2 separate regions of the Homo sapiens genome follow, and region 2 is linked to region 1. Evidence: fine-mapped expression QTL. Tissue or cell type: monocytes after LPS. Region 1 holds a variant in brackets; the other region holds the start of a gene. All regions are shown on one strand. Distances are from middle to middle.

Region 1 (5,259 bases):
TGGGATTTTGTGAGATGGAGGTTTCAGTGTTAAATGGACTCTGCAGTCAGTGCCCAAGGTGAATTCGGGCTCCAGCATCCACCAAGTGTGAGACTGCAAGTGCCTAATGCCCCATTGTGCCTCAGTTTACTCATCTGTAAAACAGAGCAGCTGTAGCTCCCTCATAGGGTTGCTAGTTAACACTCAAGAGCGCTTAGAATGCGTGGCAGCCAGTAAGCCCTCAGTGTCAGCTGTTGACTATGACTAGCACAGACAATAGCAACGCCAACCAAACGTTAGGTGGCAGCATCATTACCAGCTTGATAATTGAGGCAACCGTCCCTGAACATGCTATTAATTAACCACACCAGTGGCACAAGGCTAGCAGCGGGCTCTGAAACGACAGCTCATTTCCTAATCTCTGCGTTCACAACAGTGGCCAGCTTGTGACGCCATCCGACTGGCTGCTTTCAAGAGGAACCAGGGGCAGGGGCTTCCTTTCTGTTCCTGGACTGCTGGTAGATGCAGGCCTCCTGGGCACTGCCACAGCCACTCATGGCCAGAGTGGCATCTGTAGTGGCAGCAGCAGCAGGCACACAGGGCAGTGGCCAGAGCACTTTCAGTGAAAAAGGCAGAAGCCTTTACACTCCACCCCGGGCTGTTCTAAAAATACTTAGCTGTGGTGTCAGAATTCCTGGCCCGAGAGGGGAGGACTGCCTGAGCTCCGGGAGGTGGAGGCTGCAGTGAACCGAGATGACATCACTGCACTCCTGCAAATCGGTGGGGTAAGGACTTTAAAAATGGTGTTGGGGGGTGGGCCAACTACATCCTTTAGGGCCTGTGCTATTGCCAGGTGCAATGGCTCAGGCCTGTAATCCCAGCACTTTGGGAGGCTGAGGTGAGGAGGATGGATTGAGGCCAAGTAATTGAGACCAGCCTGGGCAACCCTGTTCCTACAAAAAATTAAAAAATGAGCTGGGCATGGTGAGGTGTGCTTATAGTCCCAGCTATTAGGGAGGCTGAGGCAGGAGGATCACTAGGCCCAGGAGTTTGAGATGACAGTGATCATGCCACTGCACTCCAGCCTAGGTGACACAGTGAGACTGTCTCCAAAAAGGAGCTATGCACAGATTTCAAAAATTTTTTGCACCAAAATAAACTTGTACTAACTTGTTATAACATGTCTTAAGATCTACTTTGAGGCACTAAGAAGGGTATGACTGTTTGAAAAGAGCACCTATCAGAGCAACATGAATTCTGCTAAAAATGGAAGCAAGGACATCAAATTTATGGTGATGCTTGGGTGGAAGAATGGTGAGATCAGTGATTTTTTTTTTTTTTTTTCCTGAGACAGAGTCTCGCTCTGTTGCCCAGGCTGGAGTGCAGTGGCGTGATCTCGGCTCACTGCAGCTTCCGCCTCTCAGGTTCAAGCAATTCTCTTGCCTCAGCCTCCTGAGTAGCTGGGACTACAGGCACATGCCACCACGCCTGGCTAATTTTTTTGTATTTTTAATAAAGACAGGGTTTCACCATGTTGGCCAGGATGGTCTCGATCTCCTGACCTCGTGATCCACCCACCTCAGCCTCCCAAAGTGCTAGGAATACAAGCGTGAGCCACCACACCTGGCCCAAAATCAATGATTTTTTTACAAAAAAGCTTATGGGGACAATGCCCCGCCCCCAGCCAAAATCAGAGGTTTGCCAATGGGTAACTTGTTTTAAGAAGGGATGAGACAATGGTGAAGACCTCCTCATCAATTTGTGAGGAAAAAATTAATCTTATTCATGCCTGAATCAAAGAGGACCAATGATTAACAGCAGAAACAACACCCAACACCACAGACACCTCAGATGGTTCAGCTTACACGATCTGACTGAAAAATTAACGTTGAGCAAACTTGCCACTCAATGGCTACCAAACCACTGCACTCAGATCAGCTGGAGACAGCAGCAGAGCTTTCAGGGGAAACTTTCAACAAGAGGAATCAACATCCTAAAGCATTTCCTCTGAGAACTGTAACAGGAGATGGAACATGGCTTTACCAGCACAATCCTGAAGACAATGTGATTGTGATCACAGCACTGGCTACCGAGAGGTGGGAGGGGTCTCCTCATAGCAAATGCAGACTGGTCAAAAGCAGAGGCCAGGCAACCATTTTCTGGGATGCTCAAAGCACTGTGTATGTGCTGACTTTCCAGATGCCCAAAGAATGTTAACATCTGCTTATGACGAGTGTTTTGAGAAAGTTAGCCAAAGCTGTGGCAGAACAATGCCTAGGAAAGTTTCACCAGAGCCCTTTTCCACCATGACAGTGCTCCTCCTGCTCATTCCTCTCAGCAAACGAGAGCCATTTTCCAAGAGTTTTGATGGGAAATCATCAGGCATCCACTTTGCAGTCCTGATTGGGCTTCTTCTGACTTTTTGTTTCCTAATCTTAAAAAGCTGTAAAGGGCACCCATTTCTCTTCAGTTCACAATGCAGAGACTACACTGACAAGGTGAAATTTCCAGGAGCCTCAGTTCTTTAGGGATAGACTGAATGGTTGGTATTATGTCTTATAGTAGTATCTTGAACTTGATGGAACTTATGTTGAGAAATAAAGTTTATATTTTTTTATTTTTCTTTTAATTCCATTTTCCATGAACTTTTAAAAGTCCCCTCATACATGTTTAC[A/G]GATGTCCATAGAAACGTTATTCAGATACTGAATAAACAACCAAAAAAACATTGTTTTATCAATGAGGAACCTGTTAAATCTACATAATACAGCTATAAAAATAATTATGTAGTTCTATAATTACCGACATGAAGACATCTGAGTAAAAACCTATTTCTGATGTTATAGAAGAACAAGTATAGTACACTCTTGAATGTAAATTTCTCTGTGTATGCATTCATATATACTGTACATTCAGAATCCTGGAAAGGGGCTTGCACAGATGTTACCAGTGTATGTCTCAGAGTGACAGAAGGACATATGAGTTTTCCTTTTCCCTTATACTTCTTTAAAAACACACTGATTTTTTTTGCACAATGAATATCAATCATATTAACATATAAAGATTTAATTTTTTCCCCAGAAGAAAACAAAAAGATTGAGCTTTGTGTACCATCCACGGACAAAAATGCTATGTGTTTTGCAGACTCAGGTAGTAGTCCCTGCGTGTGCTGGGGGTGAGATGGGGAGGAGCCGCTGATTTCTCAGCAGGCCACACCACTTTCTTCCCTAGCAAAGCTGCACAATGTTTTCAGCAGTGTCTGCAATGAGAGCTAAATGACCTCCATCTAGAACAAATGTAACCTGGGCACTTGCTCTTCCACGGATGCTCATGAGTAAAAGGAAGCTGGAGTTCTTTACAAAAGAAGCTTTGCTATGAGAAATAAAAACAACAAACTGTTTTTTACAATTTTTATTTGGTGTTAACTCCACAAGAAAACAAACAAAAAAAAATCAGTTACTCTGGTGTACGTGAAATCAGAACAATACAACCACGGGAAAAACAATCTCAGCCCAGGAATGGAAACTGGTACTTCAGTGCTATGGAAATGCAATGCGCTTCATACCACAGTGCGTTTCAGCGTTTGCCAACTTTTTAAAAATGCTTTTTCTTTGTGATCATCCATTCACAAAACTAAAAAGCCACACTTTCATCTCTGTTGCTGAAAGCCTCTGAGCTTCAGCTACTTAACTATGAAAACAAATAAATACATAATTTGTGAATCCCTTTGCTCACTTCGAATCCGTCCCATTCACCTGTGGAAGGTGCTGCATCTTCTCACCTGTGTCTGAGGAAGTGTGCACCTTTGCCACCTGGAGCCCTTTCCTAATAAACAGCAGCTGTCCAAAATCAACTGTGCTCAAGGTTGTGTCTGAAATCTATTTATTTGGTCTTTGCTACACAAGCAACGATTTCTAGAATAATCGTCACTGTAGTGATATGAGGAATTTACAACTTTCAATCCTTTTTTACTTTTGCTGTTAAATTATATTTCAGTGCAGATGCTTATCAATTTTTAGGAAGCTCCAGAAGAATGAAAAATACATAAAAACGTATCTGAAGTTCGTAAATAAATAACAGCAACATAAAACCTTACACATGCGCGCGCGCACGCGCGCACACACACACACACACACACACCCACCCACCTTAAAGTGTCAAAAAATGTGTTGTATAAAAATAAACCCTAACACGTGGGAAGATCGACCCGGCGGGCACACCAGGTCCCTCTCGGTGAGGACACACAGACCCTCAATGACTCCACAGTCTTTGATGGTACTTTCTTTTCTGTGTTATCAATTAAGAAAAAGGCAACAAAACCCAAATGTTCAAAGCAAATCATAGATTTCACAGCCAGTTCAGCTCCCAGCTAATAAATTATATGTGTGTTTACTGCCTGCCCAAATGAGTGGTGAAGCTGTCTAGAGCGCATCAGACTTTTCTGCCATTCCTGATGCTCCAGGCATGCTACGCTGATTTCACAGATTAGGTTTTTTTTGTTTTTGTTTTTTAAACAATGAGTTGGTTAAAAAAGAAAAACAATGTAAAAAATGTAAAATGTTTCGGCTGTGCACATACTGCTCCTCCTGGCCTCTGCCTGTGGCACAATGCCATGAGAGCCGGAGGAGCGGATCGCCATGCACAGACGCGACTCACAAGATGCGCCGGCTCCCCGGGCTCACCAAGGAGAAACGGGAGCCAGTCCCACGGAGCGACAGTCAGCAAAACCACCACACAGGGATGTGGAAAACTCATGACTCTACCCGCCCCAACCCACCACACACAGAACTTGCCCAGAACATTCTCTCAAACACAAAATGAGATCGAAGCTATACTACATCACAGCCAAGAAGCGGCTAGCTGCAGCAGCCAAAGATTTCTCTGGGTGATGAGGTGGCCTTTACTGCATGTCAAATGTTCACAATTTCAAGTTTTGGGGGTTTCAATTCAACATAGGTCACCAGAAAGTAACAATCTGTAACTAAGGTCCTTAGCACGTATGGAACACTCACCACAAAGAACCCTGCATGGGGTTTTGGTGTAAATGTAACTGCAGTATGAGAGCAGGTAAGGGGTGGGGTATGCACCCTTACCCCACTGTGTCTCGCATACGACCCCACACCCCAAATCCTTGGCTTCTTCAGTTAGCAAGAAAGTCACGAACCATAGTATCTTCCGTGATACTTTAGGGGAAAAGAAATCCTAAGAGAGAAAACACAGTATTTGGTGAGTCTTGAAAAGCACACCTCTGCGGTTCCTACTGGAAATGTACATGAGATTTTG
Region 2 (5,000 bases), 100 kb after region 1:
CTAAGCTCCAAACCACAGGCAGTCTTAGAAGCCTACTGAGCCAGAGACTGACAAGATCTGAGCTCAGGAAAGATGACTCTGGCAGCCAGGCAAAGAATGGATAGGAAGGGGTGGCGAGGAGCCTGAAGACAAAGTTAAAAACTTTAAGCAAAGCAAGTAATCTGAGGTTTTAACACTTACACTAGGCGAGTATTTTTAAAGGGTTTGAGTCTTGACGACATTTCACGTCTTCCCTCAAGTGATCATCCCAACTATTCTGTGAAACAGGTGTCATCAATCTTCCCATTCTACAGATGAGGAAATTAGCTCACAAGCCATTAACTGCCAAGTCAAATGCTACAAAAACAAGGACAAAGCGCAGGCTCAGCACTTTTCCACACAATGAAAAATAAAGAACAAGAACAATCTAATTTCTTTTGAAGAGTGCTACCGTACAACATAGCACAGAGTAGGCTAGCTACATTACCCTATATTACCACTGGAAGTGTTAAAAATCCATCTAATCAGCCAGGCGCGGTGGCTCACGCCTGTAATCCCAGCACTTTGGGAGGCTGAGGCAGGCGGATCACGAGGTCAGGAGAGAAAGACCATCCTGGCTAACACGGTGAAGCCCCATCTCTACTAAAAATGCAAAAAATTAGCCGGGGGTGGTGGCATGCACCTGTAGTCCCAGCTACTCGGGAGGTTGAGGCAGGAGACTCGCTTGTACCCGGCGGGCGGAGGTTGCAGTGAGTGAGCCGAGATCGCGGACTCCAGCCTGGGCGGCAGAGCGAGACTCCGTCTCAAAAAAAAAAAAAAAAAAAATTCATCTGATCTTCTTAAATGTTTGCAACTTGCATAACAAGCTAATTATCCTTAGATTTGACTTCTGTTAACGTCATGTTAAAGACCTATACTTTTTCTCCAAAGCAAACAAAAAAGCACCTGCACTTTGAATTCTACTTCCTATGGAAATAAATAAGAATAATATTCTCCCTTCCCTTCAATGTTTAAAAACTGGCATTTCACTGATGTAACGGGCTTACATAAAAACCATTATACCCAAGGAAGCTGTAAACCACTTTTTGAATGATTAAAAATGCATTATTTAGCAAGTACAGCAATTGAATCTGAGTTATAAGATATATTAAGTGAAAGGAGCTTCTATAGATATGCAAAGGCACACTCTCGGAAATAGGTTCTGTCATAAGGAAGCGACATAGAGATCCTGAGACCTATTTAAGAATGGTTCAATCCAAAATAACTGATGGAAGAATATTTGACCTTGAGGATGCAGAGTGATAGAATCCGCTCCTCCTCCCCCCCCGCCCTCACCCGCCTTTAAATTCTAAGTCCACGAAATGGTCAAAGTGTTCTGGAACGGGTCTTATTTTGCATAGGAAGAATCTAGCTTGGGCATTTTACCGCACAGTTTTATCCACAGCATCGCCTATTACCAAAACTGCTTGTCCCTACCCCCTCACGAGCTTTCTAACAGTTTTTAAAACAAGACCCAGAAATGTAAAATCCCTTCTTAGGAACTTGAACAGTAAGTCAAAGTATCCAACCCAGGTAATTATTAGCAAGAACTACATTTATATAATTTTTTCCAAAGAATCTCGCATGCCTCCTCTCCGCTGAATCTCCCTCCTGTTTTTAACTGGGTTAAATCTTTATAGCTTGCCTATAGAGGACAAAAACGGAAAGGTGGCAAAAAAGAAATCAAGACAGTTCTGCCATGATTTAGGGGTCTGTACCAAGAGTTCGGCAGGTCCTGTCACCTGCGCACCACAAGACGCAAGCTGAATTCTAGGGCAAGACGAAGCATTCCAACACGACACACACTGGTTTCTCCAGCGGGAAGAAGCAGAGAGCTCTAGAAATGCCGGCTGCAGACGCGTATTGTTGGAAAGGAGCCGGATCAGGCCCCGCAGCAACTCGGGGCGCCCTCGCGACAGGGTTTGCCGCGCAGCGCACGGATGACTGTGGGCCTGTCACTCCTAGCTCCAGCTGTAACCTTCGCCAAACCTTGCGCCGCACCGGCCCCGCCCGCCAGGCCCGCCCCCCGCGCCGCGCCCCGCGCCATAGGCCGGCGCGCCAGTCGCTCAGCCGGCCTCCCGGCCCCGCCCGCCTGCGGCCCTCCTCCCCCGCCCGGCGGTTTTCCCTTCCCGGGGCCCCAAAAGGACAATGCTGGAGGGGAGGGGAACGGAGGGAACGCGAGCGAGCGGCCCAGGCTGCCGGCCTGACCCCGCTGCCGGGGACGCCGGGCGCCTCCCACCGGCCGAAGCCTTCCTCCCGCGCCCACTTTCGGGGCTCTACGTCCTATCAAGTCTAAGCACCCCCGCCTCGTCTCCCCTAGAAGAGCCGCCCCGGCGCGGCGACACCTGCCCCAGGCAGGAGGCAGCCAACGGCAACCCATTGTGCGGACTCATCGTCCACAGCCCACCCGGGCGCAAGAGCCGCAAGCTGGTGTCCCGGCGTCCTGGGGTCGGGGCGGGGGTCCCAGGGCCCACAGCTCACCCGCACGCCCGGGCACCACCAGGATCGGGGCCGGTCAGGCCTCCCTCGGCTGGCCCCGGAGCCATCAACAGCGGCCCGGTCTCCCTTAGGCTGGCCCCGGAGCCATCAGCGGCGGCCCGGCCTCCCTCAGGCTGGCCCCGGAGCCCCCGGCGGCGGCCCGGTCTCCCTCAGGCTGGCCCCGGAGCCCTCGGCGGCGGCTCGGCCTCCCTTAGGCTGGCCCCAGAGCCCACGGCGGCGGCCCTGTCTCCCTTGGGCTGACCCCGAAGCCTTCGGCTGCGGCCCGGCCTCCCTCGGGCTGGCCCCGGAGCCCCACGGCGGCGAGCGTCCGGCCTCCCCGGCCCGCGCCCACCCGGCCGAGGGGCTGCTCCGCGCCCTCCCTCCCCGCCGCCTGCCCGCAGTACCTGCCGAGGCTGCCGGGCGGCGCGGCGGCCGGCGGGGGCGCCTCTCCTCTGGCTCCGAGGGGCTGCGGGCGGCTGCCGAGCGCCGGGCGGCCCTGGCCTGCGCCTTACGTAAAGCGGCGGCGGCGGCCCCAGCGCCACTCCGCGGAGGGCGGGAGGCGGCGCGCCGGGAGCCGCTCCGCTCCGTTACCCGGCAACTGGCCTCAGCGCCCCGCCAACCAGGGGCGCGCTCCATATCCTTCCGCCCGGGTGCCGGGATTACATCAGCGCCGGCCGGTCCCCGCCCCTGCCCCTCCCTCCGGCTGGGCTGCGGGCGCGCGCGGGCGGTGGGCCGCGGGCTGACGGCGCGAGGGGACAGGCCGGGGCTGGTGCCTGGCGGGTGGGGGTCTAGGGCCCGGGACGCGCCGTGCAGCTTGGCCGGGGCGGCGGAAGCCGCTGGGAGGTGAGAGGGCAAGCAGTAGAGAGGGCAGGCAGGAAGCGGGAGCCCCCCAGCGTGCTGGGCGTCGGAGAGGAGACGTCTCCCGCGGAGGGGCACGTGGGACTGCCCTCGGCAGAAGCCCCCGAACTCTGCCGCCGCGCCCCGCCCCCGGCCCGCGCTGGGGAAGTGGGGCTCGGCGTGCACGGCCCCGCCCGCGGCCCGGTGCAGCCCCCGCCTTCCCGGGCTCGCGCGCCACCTGTCCGCGCCCCCTCCTCGCCGCGTCCTGGGATGGCTGGAGTAGGCGGCTTAAAATAAAGACTTTAATTTTTTGTTGTTGTTGTTAAGGAACCCAGAAGACAAGCTAAAGAAATGTGACATGGCTCTTTTTTTATTAACTAGGCAAAAATAAATTCTGGAAGCTTCGAAAGTGGAAACCAAAAATGTGCATTAACCTTTTAATCAAAGTGTCTTCACAGCCACCTACCTTCCCTAAATGTGACTCCTAGGCCTGTTCTAAAAAAGCAAATAAGTATCATGGACCTGGAAAAGGAAGGGAGATTACTTAGAAGAAAGAGGTCCAATGGGAGGAGTGACTTACCTGGGGTCATTTGTTCATTTATGCAGCACCCACTAGGTGCCAGGCACTATGCTTTTCTGTTCAGAACCTGTTGGAGAATTTCCTGCACCAGCTCACGGGCTTGTGGGAGAAGCAGATGCTGAAACACTGGAGAGGGGTCATCTGCTGAGTTGGCTAGATGCTCCATGCATCCATGGAAGGACAAACCGAGGAACTGTCGCTTACGTACTATCTACAGAGTGTTTTTTCTGCGAACATATCTTTTTGTTCTTTACAAAAATCGTGGGACAAATCTTTGTCATCCGCATTTAACTGGTGAGGAAGCTGAGGCTGAAAGAAAGTGATTTCACCCAAGCCTGGCTGCTACCGAGTGGACAGGGCCTTCTGACCTTGCTAAACCACCTCTTGCAGGAGACAGAATGTGAACCCAGGCTCCTGGCTCTGAAATATGGGGTTTCGTTTCCTTTACACTACTGTCTCCCTTAACCAGTTTGCTTCTAATTGTATTCTCTGAGCATTCGCTCAGGTGAATGTATATCGTCATAAATCACACGTTCATTCAGTCAGTTTCTTCTGAGTGCTTGTTGTGGACCTGGCTCAGTGCCGGGAACGCACAGTCCCTGTGCTCCTGGAACTCAAACTCTAAAAACAGTGTCGAGAATGGAAAGGGTATGGGAAATCCAGGGCCACTTGGGAGTAGAGGAGGGGAGAGTAGCAGAGCTTCAGAGCCTAGTTCACAGGTGCCTCCAGGCTCCAGGATTTCACAGACCAAAGTATGGGGGATTTGCAAAGGATGGTCAGCTTTTGATTTTTGCTACATTGGTGACATATCTGTCATCTACATCATATTTTACAAAAGAGTATTAACAGCAAAATTTTTTGAAAAGTAATAACAGTATATCTCAGTTCTGAAGAAAGGAAACACGGTTGGCACCTGTATAGTGACACACACACACACACACACACACACAGAGTTTATTGACCTTTTTTTTTATTACTTTGCCACAGACCAGTTTTTATACTAGTTCTACCATGAACTAGTAGAACCTGAAGACTTCTTGGAAGAAGAGGTTTTTAAGTAGGAATTATCTTGTATTAATAGGATTTG

Direction of the effects. Alleles are on the strand shown, and positions count from the first base shown. SD is a standard deviation of normalised expression in the study named.
For the expression in monocytes after LPS of the gene that starts at base 3,015 in region 2, G is the low allele of the variant in region 1 and A is the other (large effect, 0.76 SD a copy in Fairfax 2014).

The links. PIP is the estimated chance that this variant, and not a neighbour inherited with it, causes the effect.
Region 2: KIAA0232 starts here. The variant in region 1 is fine-mapped to the expression of KIAA0232 in monocytes after LPS (Fairfax 2014, PIP 0.95). The same link has a PIP of 0.9 or more in monocytes.

Annotation. Positions count from the first base shown.
Region 1 is chr4:6,881,483-6,886,741 of GRCh38, reverse strand. KIAA0232 reads right to left here. Exons shown (of 10, transcript NM_014743.3): 10 at 2,578-5,259. Among named protein-coding and RNA genes, the nearest start is that of TBC1D14, 26 kb to the left of the region's middle. The variant A/G (reference allele first, on the strand shown) is at 2,654.
Region 2 is chr4:6,780,742-6,785,741 of GRCh38, reverse strand. It overlaps KIAA0232, which reads right to left and starts at 3,015. Exons shown (of 10, transcript NM_014743.3): 1 at 2,901-3,015. RefSeq lists silencers at 1,926-2,695, 2,756-3,635.